Regions from separate parts of the Homo sapiens genome. Here region 2 is linked to region 1. Evidence: fine-mapped expression QTL. A gene starts in region 1. The other region holds a variant in brackets. All regions are shown on one strand. Distances are from middle to middle.

Region 1 (5,000 bases):
GGAGTGTGATGGCACTATCTCGGCTCACTGCAACCTCCGCCTCCCAGGTTCAAGCAATTCTCCTGCCTCAGCCCCCGCAGTAGCTGGGATTACAGGCACCCAGCACCACGCCCGGCTAGTTTTGGTATTTTTAGTAGAGATGGGGTTTCACCATGTTGGCCAGGCTGGTCTCGAACTCCTGACCTCAGGTGCTCCACCCGCCTCGACCTCTCAAAGTGCTGGGATTACAGGCATGAGCCACCGCGCCTGGCCTGAATCTCTGAACAGTGTTCTAAATTTGATATAGTACATGAAAAAGTCAAGACTTTTTCTATTTTTCCCATCCCTGGAATCATGTGCTCTATGAAATGACCATATCAAAGCTGGGCCACCACAAAACATTATTGGCTTTGCGGGAAACAGAGCAGCAGAGGCCTGACCCAATGGAAATCCTTCCTAGAGAACTAGGATCATGGCAAAGAGTGTCACATACTGAAAATAATAAGGCCCGGCGCAGTGGTCACGCCTGTAATCCCAGCACTTTGGGAGTCCGAGGTGGGCAGATCACGAGGTCAGGAGATTGAGACCATCCTGGCTAACACGGTGAAATCCCATCTCTACTAAAAATACAAAAAAAAATTAGCCGGGCTTGGTGGCGGGCGCCTGTAGTCCCAGATACTCGGGAGGCTGAGGCAGGAGAATGGCATGAACCTGGGAGGTGGAGCTTGTAGTGAGCCGAGATTGTGCCACCGCACTCCAGCCCGGGCAACAGGGTGAGACACCGTCTCCAAAAAAAAAAACAAAAAAAGAAAATAACAGTACAGCTGACTTTCTGTGCCCTCTCCCATTCCCACATCCATTTTTCTTTCATATTAGGATATAAACCCTTAGAATCAAACCTGCTTCCTTATGGTTTAGGAATGACAGTAATGTTCTTAGTCTTTGTAGAGATTAGCAATTAAAAAATAAAAAAGTCAAAGCAAACAAAATGACTTTTTTACTCTATTAGCGTTCTGCAACAAGAGTTAAGGACCATAAAAGACATCGGAGGGCTAGGCACAGTGGCTCACGCCTGTAATCCCAGTACTTTTCGAGGCTGAGGTGGATGGATTACTTGAGGTCAGGAGTTTGAGACCAGCCTGGCCAACATAGTGAAATCCCATCTCTACTAAAAATACAAAAATTAGCCGGGTGTGGTGGCAGATGCCTGTAATCCCAGCTACTCAGGAGGCTGAGGCAGGAGAATTGCTTGAACCCGGGAGGCGGAGGTTACAGTGACCGGAGATCGCACCATTGCCCTCCAGCCTGGGAGACAGTGCGAGACTCCATCTCAAAAAAAAAAAAAAAACAACAGACAGACATGGGAGAAGACATTACTACGTAATGAACTTAAGGTATAAGGAAGTAAACCAAGAGCTCCAAGTGCAAGATGTCCAGGCTTGGCATGTCTGGGTTGTAAGAGTTCAGCAGCCTGGCTCTACTTGTTTCTCTGCTTCCTTTTGTGGAAGTTCAAACCAGCTGACTCACAGTTACAGAGCGAGTCTCAAGTCATACCCTTAGAGAAGTGACAGCAAGAAAAGGCTTCGTTAAGTGGCCTGTATACAACCATAAAAAAATACAACAAAGAGAGTTGTCCCATTAATGTTCAGTAAGAGACAAAGACTAAAGATGGCTTATGACATAAAGTCTGAAAAAAAAAGAAATATTCAGTTGCTTACCAACTGCTGATACCCTTGTTTCTAAATAAATCTGAATTAGACTCCAAAAAAGCCTCAAAATATAAATAGTTAGAAACTACTGATATTCATTAAGATATTTTTATGGGGTATATTTGGAAACATAAGTGATGATCTGGCTTACCAATGGTGGGATCATGATCTTCTGGGAATCGGTGGCTGATGAACTGCATGGTCATGGCTTCAAAAGAAGAAATAAAAGTCAAATCCTCACAAAGGTGACCCACAGAGAGAATTTTAAGTATTAACATTGCAAGATAGCAAGTATCCCATCTGGTCATTTAAGTACTTTTCATCCATGCTTCCTGTCAAATGGAAAATGTTACCTACCACTCTTCCCTACACCACCAGCACCCAGCATCACTAGTTTGTACTCCCGTGAGAGCCCAGCGGGGCTGCTACAGCAGCTACCAACTGGGCGAGTTCCAGAATCCATTGTCCTCTTGGGGCCTTCCTCGGTTGCCCCGAGGAAAAGCCACCTAGAAAAGGAGGAGGAAATGCTTAATCCAGGATGGAGACACCACGGCGACAGCCCTCAAGCCAGTGCCTTACCTTTCCATACATATTCTGGCCTGTCCCTCTTACTCTGGCCTGTCCCTCTTGCTCACCACTGCACCCTTTCGGGTGGCCCTAAGAAACCCCCCCATCTTCACCCTCCCTCCTAGACAGTTCAGTCACATGACACATCACAGGTTTTACTTTTTCCAAAGAGAAAAATAAAAAGATACAAATAAATTTACGTCTCGGCACAGTAGGGACAAGGAGAAAGTTTTGGGAAGAAAGGGATGCGGCCCCTTAGGCCGCAGGGGTTCTCTCACGTCTGCGGTACCCAGAGGTTCCGCCCCCTCCCCATTCTCCTCCGAACCCCCTCCCCACCCCCAGCTGCTGCTCCGCCGCCAGACTCCCCACCCCTCTACCTCACAAGCCGACGCCCTGCTGCTCCTACTGGTCAGTGGGGACTGGAACACCACAGCCGGTCGGGTCACGCACTTCGTCTTCCTTCACTCGCGGAGGCTCCGGCACTGACCTGTGACCCCTCCCGCAACCGAGTAAGATGGCGCCACCGGCGCCCGAGTCGCGGAAGGAGGGGCGGGGCCACTCAGTGACGCCCACAGCCTGCCCCGCCCTCTTCCCGCCCCTCCCAGGTCCCTAAAACCCAGTTCCGGGACCCACCGCTGAAGGTCCTCTGGTCACCTACCCAACCTAGGGTGTATGCACTCACAGACAAGGGTATTTAATCACGAGTAGAAAGTAAATTATTTACACAAAAGGGAAGGGAGTACGTGATAAGAGACATGCAGGGACACTTAAATTAACAACTTACCGAGGGTTGTTTGCTGCTTGTGGGAAAAAAAAAAACCCAAAACTAATTTGACCCAATGTAATGAGAGGAAGGGAGGACAGGGGCACCCCCCAAATCCTCCTAAAACACAGGATTTCAGTCAAGTCTACCGGGGATGACTACTCATAGGAGAAAAATGACTTTCCTAAAGGAGCGGCCACAATGACTTTTGCTATTGAAACCTAAATTCATTCTCAGAAACCAGATGTTCACAACACTCCCTAATCAGAGTTCTGTATGTATTTTAAACACGTATAAGACACACAAAAACTTGTTTTAAATAAATGTACCACACTCTGGCAGGAAAGAGAGCTCTGAGTTAACAGAGGCCTTGAGTTAAATACAGAACTGAAGCGCAGCCACTATAACCATATTCCCCTCTATTTACGTAGCACAGGTGCTAGAAGAAACTGACACGAAAATTGTTCTCATGCAGCTCTGCCTACCACTGTTCTTTTTAAATGTCTTTCTGGGCCGGGCGGGCGCGGTGGCTCACACCTGTAATCCCAGCACTCTGGGAGGCCGAGGCAGGTGAGTCATGAGGTCAAGAAATAAGAGACCATCCTGGCCAACATGTAAAACCGTCTCTACTAAAAATACAAAAGAATTAGCTGGGTGTGGTGGCATGCGCCTATAAGTCCCAGCTACTCGGGAGGCTGAGGCAGGAGAATCACTTGAACCTGGGAGGTGGAGGTTGCAGTTAGCTGGCTGAGAGGGTGCCACTGCACTCCAGCCTGGCAACAGAGCAAAACTCCGTCTCAAAATTTAAGTCTTTCTGGCCAGGAGTGCTGGCTCACGCCTGTAATCCCAGGACTTTGGGAGGCTGAAGTGGGCTGATCACTTGAGGATCAGGAGTTCAAGACCAGCCTGGCCAAAATGGTGACTCCCTGTCTCTACTAAAAATATAAAAATTAGTTGGGCATGGTGGTAGGTGCCTATAATCCCAGCTACTCAGGAGGCTGAGGCTGGAGAACCACTTGAACCCAGGAGGTTGCGGTGAGCCAGGATTGCACCATTCCACTCCAGCCTGGGTGACAGAGCGAGACTCCATCTCAAAAAAAAATAAAATGTCTTTCCAAGAATAACATATTTCCTTTAAAACCCGCTTCATTCATGAAGTCCTTTTAATACGCTGTTAAATAAAGGAGGGCTAAAATATGAAAATGGAAAATATCCAGCATAATAATCCTTAACCTTTTCATTTGAACTTTAAGGGTACATTTTGCAGTTACATAACTCTGGGAACTATATGCAAACCTTGGGGTCTGTATATGTATTTTTCTGGTAATGTTATAGTTGCATTGTGCTATGAGTAAAAAAGTTTATGAATTTCAGTGTATGGATGGGTTGTGGAAGAAAACAGAGAAACCACAAGCAGAATATTTATAGATTTATTTATAATGAAATTATGGTCTAAATATTTACAACATATAGGAAACCAGAGGATAAGTTTATACAAAGCCAGCCTGCAAAGTATTCAAATGTGCAAAAATGACAGTTCAATATCTCAAACTATTCCTGGTTCAGCAGACTAGCTCCTTCACTTTCACACATCAATATTTGATACAAAAAGTTATTTTGGCAAAATCTGTAATGCCAAGAAAAAGGACAATTTGCAATTTCAGTCATTAAGTCCAAAATCCTATAGCCAGCAGTCAGATCTCTCTGTTTTAGCTGCAACCAGTTCTGGGAGAGAGAGACCACTGTATTTCATTTCTGTGATGAGTTCTGACCAGTTTTAGTCAAGAAGTTTTCTCTGACCCAGCTGAAGACAGGATCTTAGAAGGGCAATAAAAACAGTAATGGCTATGAGACCAATGTGCCTGAAGGTGCCAGCTTTGGATCACCCCAATTAAAAAACACAATGAAAAAATAATTTCATTTTCCTATCCAGGATCCAGCTATATCCAACAGTTTTAAATGAGACAGCATTTTCCAAAACA
Region 2 (5,520 bases), 43 kb after region 1:
CTCCCCATCCCGAGAGTTGGCTCGGCACAGCTTCTCCCGCCGCTCAGGGCCCTCAGGGAACCGGGCTTCCATCAGAGTGTCCTGCTGGGCCACAGCTGCCTGGGAGTAGAATGCAGGCAGAAGGGTTTATCAGAACCCCTGTGCTCTTCTACCCCTCGCCTTCACCCTCCAAGGCCCAGATCATCGCTCCTGGAGAGCTTGGATTGGGAGGGTATTTAGAAAGGCCTGTTGGGATGACCATGCCCCACCTAAACAGGCATCTCTAGCCTGGCTCCTCCCCTTCCCCATTCAAGCCCTTGTCCTACTGACCTGTAGGCCATGTAGAAGTCCATAGAGATTGACCAATCGCTGTAACGCCTCCTGAGGACAGACAGGGTGGGAACAGGGCCCCAGCTTTAGGATGGGAGAACTGCCCAAAAGTTGAACAAGGGTGGGTGTGGGGACAGTAGGATCCGGAGACATACTTGAATGTAGACGCTTTCCCCACCCCACTCCAAACTGGGCTCTAACTACTCAGACTAAGAACATCCTCCCTTCAGTCTCCTATACCATCAATTCCCATCTCACCTCTTGCGGTGATCTCAGCTGATTTCCATTTCGATCCTGCAGAAATGGGCAAGAATGGGGAGTCAGCAGGCACACAAATCCTGGGTGCCTGCCCCTGACAGCTTTGTGTTGAGGATCCAGAGGCTGGCTGTCCCTCTCCCACCCTCTTGCCAAGTCCCAGAACCTCTTGAGGACCTACCCTCTGGCTAGAGTCTGAGTCAGCTCTGCAGAGTTCAATGGAGCCATTGAAGGTTCTGGCCTCACCATCTGTTGAGAAGGAGAAAAGGATGGCTGAGCTCACTTCCCTGGGGCCCTGATACCACTTGATCCCTGGTACCACTCTACTAACTTTGGCCCCTCCCACCTACTACCTTGGTCCCCTGCCCTGGTACTCACTGGCAGTGACCCCAGGACTCGTGTTACCACCGCTGTCTGGTTCCAAGGGCAGGGCTGGCTCTCGGGGTGTCAAGAGCAGTTCCACTCCTGGCCCCACCAGCAGGTCTTTCAGACCCTCCACTGTGGGGAAAGAGGAAGAGGTGAGAACAGGAATGACACAGGACCCTGAGGGGAATGCCATTCACCCCCACATGTGGGACACTTGGGCATCTGGGGGAATGCCCCCTGCACTGGCAGTGGGGTTTCACTCACACAACCACTGATGAGGTAAAGGGCAGTAAATGCCTACGAGGCAGCAGAGTCCATGCAGCATGGACGATATGGAGCAGCAGCAAGGACCACACCTCCTCCCCTGCCTTTCCCAGGAACTGGCCCAGAAGAGGCACTCAGGGCCGTTTATGGTTTATAGGGTTGGCATCCCACTTGTCTGTGTTTGTCCATGTCTAGTCACATGTCCACATTCTGTGACGGTGAGTGCTTGAGCCTGGACTCTTCCCTGGGAGCTCCCTCACCCTCACGGATGGCATCCTGCAGCAGCCGCTCGCCACGAGGGGACTCAAGGGACTCAGAGCGGAAAAGGCCCCTGGGCAGGGTGGGCAGGGCCATCCCACTGCCACCATCCTCTTCGGCCTGGAAATGGGTCATCTCAGCAAACAGCCCGACCTTCTCTCGCAGCAGCTCCACCAGTGCCCGGTCCTTCTGCTGCAACTCCACTGCAGATAAGGAACAAGTGAGGACATGAGAGGACGTAGGGGTATGCAAGAGCGCCAGTAGAGGACAGCCCTAGGGGAGAGGGGTAGGGTGGGGCAGTGTGGCAGACTTAATTTTGTTATTTTGGCATTTATAAAAAAGAAAAAGCTTTCTGTTGGTCAGGTGTAGTGGCTCACACCTGTAATCCCAGCACTTTGGGAGGCCAAGGCAGGTGGATCGCTTGAGGCCAGGAGTTCAAGACCAGCCTGGCTAACATGGCAAAACCCTGTCTCTACTTAAAATACAAAAATTAGCCAGGTGTGGTGGCACGCGCCTGTAGTCCCAGCTACTCAGGAGGCTGAGGCACAAGAATCGCTTGAACCCAGGAGGCAGAGGTTGCAGTGAGGCCGAGATCACACCACTGCACTCCAGCCTGGGCGACACAGCAAGACTCTGTCTCAAAAAAAAAAAAAAAAGATTTGTGGAAGGGGTTGCAGGTTGTCCAACAGTGTTCATTCTTTCCATCTTCCTTTAATGAGAAAATGCATAGAAGTTTCATCTGGGCACACATGGCTGCCCAGTTAACAACTATGTTTTCCAGCCTGACTTGCACGTGACTATATTGCTACATGACTACATTCTGGCCAATGGATATGAGCATCTTCCAGATCTGCTCTTAAAAGAAATGGGTATAGGCTGGGCATGGCAGGTGGATCACTTGAGGCCAGGAGTTCGAGACCAGCCTGGCCAACATGGTGAAACCCTATCTCTACTAAAAATACAAAAATTAGCCAGGAGTGGTGGTGGATGCCTGTAATCCCAGCTCCTTGGGAGGCTGAGGCAGGAGAATCACTTGAACGTGGGAGATGGAGGTTGCAGTGAGTCGAGATCACGCCACGCCACTGCACTCCACCCTGGGCGACAGAGCAAGACCCTGTCTCAAAAAAAAAAAAAAAAAAAAGAAAGAAAGAAAAAGAAAAAAGGGTATAAACTCTATTCCTTTACTCCTCCTTGCTAGGTGTGATACAGGTGTGACAGTGGGAGCTGGAGTAGCCACTTCAGACATGACATAGAGATGAAAACTTCATGTTAAAGATGGCAGAGCTGCACCACTACTCTGCACTTCCCACTTTGAACTGTTATGTTGACAGCAATAATATTCTACCTTGTTGGGGTTTTTTTTGTTGTTGTTGTTACCCAGACTGGAGTGCAGTGGTGCAATTATAGTGTATTACAGCCTTGAACTCCTGGGCTCAAACAATCCGCCCACCTCAGCCTCCCGAGTAGCCAGGACTACAGGTGTGTACCATCATGCCTAGCTATTTTTTTTTTTTTAATTTTTTGTAGAGACAGGGTCTTGCTATGTATGTTTTGTTGCCCAGACTGGTCTCGAACTCCTGACCTCAAGAGATCCTCCTGTCTCCCAAATCCTTCTGGGATTAAAGGCGTGAGCCACTGCATCCAGCCAATCTACTT[C/CTT]TTTTTTTTTTTTTTTTTTTGAGATGGAGTCTCCCTCTGTTGCCCAGGCTGGAGTGCAGTGGCGTGATCTCAGCTCACTGCAAGCTCCGCCTCCCAGGTTCATGCCATTCTCCTACCTCACTCTCCTGAGTAGCTGGGACTACAGGCACCCGCCACCACCCCCGACTAATTTTTTTTTTGTATTTTTTAGTAGAGACGGGGTTTCACCGTGTTAGCCAGGATGGTCTCAATCTCCTGACCTCGTGATCCGCCCACCTCGGCCTCCCAAAGTGCTGGGATTACAGGCGTGAGCCACCGCGCCCGGCCAATCTACTTCCTTTTTTAAGGAAGAAGATTTTTGTGGTCTTTTAGTATAGCAGTTAAATCATACCCTAACTAATATAAGGCCTTACAGTGAAAAAGTAAGTTACTCACCCAACCTTGGTCTTCCATATTATTTTTACACACATGGTAGTATACACTTTACATTGTTTTAAACCTTGCTTTTTTCACTTAATATGTTTCAGTTGTGGATCTACACCAGCCCTCATAGAGCCATCTCATCTTTTTAACAGTTGCATAATATTCCATTGTGTGAATGTATTATAAATTACTAAGGAGCTCCTTGTGGGTGGACTTACTCTTAATTCGCCGCAGGTAAGCCTCATCCTCTGTCTCAATCAGGGGGAAGTCCTCCCTGGATGGGCATCTGGAGGGGTAACAGGTCGCATGCCATTGAGAGACAGAAGCTAGGTTATAGACCAGAATCAGCCTTCCCTCCTTCCCAAACATGCCTTATGCTTCCATCTTCTGATAAGACTCCTCAGCCTCACACCCTAGCTTTAATTTAGTCCTGACCTTCTCCCTTTTCTTTCTTTTTTTTTTGAGACGGAGTCTTACTCTGTCACCCAGGCTGGAGTGCAAGGGCGCTATCTCAGCTCACTACAACCTCCTCCTGGGTTCAAGTGATTCACTTGTCTCAGCCTCCTGAGTAGCTAGGATTACAGGCACGCACCACCATGCCTGGCTAATTTTTGTATTTTTAGTAGACATGGGGTTTCGTCACGTTGGCCAGGCTGGTCTCAAACTCCTGACCTCAGGTGATCCTCCGCCTCCCAAAGTGCTGGGATTACAGGCATGAGCCACCGCGCCCGGCCGACCTTCTCCCATTTCTTAGCACTGATTATCTGCGTTTACTGAGATATATCTCTCCAAAGGTCGCTTGGAAAGGCAGCACAGTGCAGAGGGTCAAGTACAGGCTTTGGCATCAAGCAAACAGGATGCAAATCCTGGCTCCACTGTTTACCAGGTGGTAACCTCTCTATTTCCTCATTTGAAAAATGAAGGTAATATCTTCCTCATAGGTTTTTCATTAGGATTAAATGAAATGTTAAAGTGCTTTGAACATAACAGAAGCTCAACAAATCAATTACAATTAATATTATTAATTTCCACAATTATAATTTTTTTTTTGAGAGAGAGTCTTGCACTTTCGCCCAGGCTGGAGTCCAGTGACAGGATCTTGGCTCACTGCAACCTCTGCCTCCCAGGTTCAGGTGATTCTCCTGCCTCAGTCTCCCAAGCAGCTGGGACTACAGGCACGCACCACCATGCCTGGCTAAGTTTTATATTTTTAGTAGAGACAGGGTTTCGCCATGTTGGCCAGGCTGGTCTCGAACTCCAGTGGTCCGCCTGTCTCAGCCTCCCAAAGTGCTGGGATTCCAGGTGTGAGCCACAGCGCCTGGCCACAATTATAAATATTAATACTATTAATAAAGAAGCCACTACAGATCTGTCAACAGGACAGGTTATTTTGAACTGCTTTCTTGGAATAGGCAATTTCATAATTTTTTTTTGGAGATGGAGTCTCACTCTGTCACCTAGGCTGGAGTGCAGTGGCACAATCCTGACTCACTGCAACCTCCACCCCCGGGTTCAAGCGATTCTCCTGCCTCAGCTTCCCGCGTAACTGGGATTACAAGCTTATGCCACCACGCCCGGCTAATTTTTGTATTTTTAGTAGAGACGAGGTTTCACCATATTGGCCGGGCTGGTCTTGAACTCCTGACCTCAAGTGATCTACCCGCCTCAGCCTCTCAAAGTGCCGGGATTACAGGCGTGAGCCACTGTGCCTGGCCTGCAATTTCATACTTTTATATGCATTTCTAAAAACCTTTTCAAAATTCCATGGTGCAGAAGTTAAAAAAAAAAAAAGGTTTACAAATTATAAAGTTGAGAACTGATTCCCTGAAAGCTAAAGAAAAATTATAAAAATCTTGGCTGGGCATGGTGGCTAATGCCTGTAATCTCAGCTCTTTTGGAGGCTGAGGTGGGCGGATAAATCTGAGATCAGGAGTTCGAGACCAGCTTGGTCAACATGGCAAAACCCCGTCTCCACTAAAAATACAAAAATTTGGCTGGGTGCAGTGGCTC

Which allele goes with the higher level. Positions count from the first base shown, and alleles are read on the strand shown. Sizes are in standard deviations (SD) of each study's normalised expression.
In carriers of allele CTT in region 2, the expression in iPS cells of the gene that starts at base 2,739 in region 1 tends to be higher than with C alone (large effect, 1.0 SD a copy in iPSCORE).

Evidence for each region. PIP is the estimated chance that this variant, and not a neighbour inherited with it, causes the effect. A credible set is the group of variants that fine-mapping cannot tell apart.
Region 2: its variant is the best candidate, but not a certain one, in a credible set for the expression of RIT1 in iPS cells (iPSCORE, PIP 0.54).

The regions. Positions count from the first base shown.
Region 1 is chr1:155,908,611-155,913,610 of GRCh38, forward strand. It overlaps RIT1 (Ras like without CAAX 1), which reads right to left and starts at 2,739. Exons shown (of 6, transcript NM_006912.6): 1 at 2,633-2,739; 2 at 2,046-2,194; 3 at 1,840-1,896. The coding sequence starts at 2,151. It overlaps KHDC4 (KH domain containing 4, pre-mRNA splicing factor), which reads right to left. Exons shown (of 14, transcript NM_014949.4): 14 at 4,435-5,000.
Region 2 is chr1:155,951,174-155,956,693 of GRCh38, forward strand. It overlaps ARHGEF2 (Rho/Rac guanine nucleotide exchange factor 2), which reads right to left. Exons shown (of 22, transcript NM_001162383.2): 14 at 3,729-3,796; 15 at 1,455-1,655; 16 at 943-1,062; 17 at 746-813; 18 at 568-603; 19 at 310-360; 20 at 1-99. It overlaps MIR6738 (microRNA 6738), which reads right to left and starts at 163; the gene lies at 100-163. The variant C/CTT (reference allele first, on the strand shown) is at 3,109.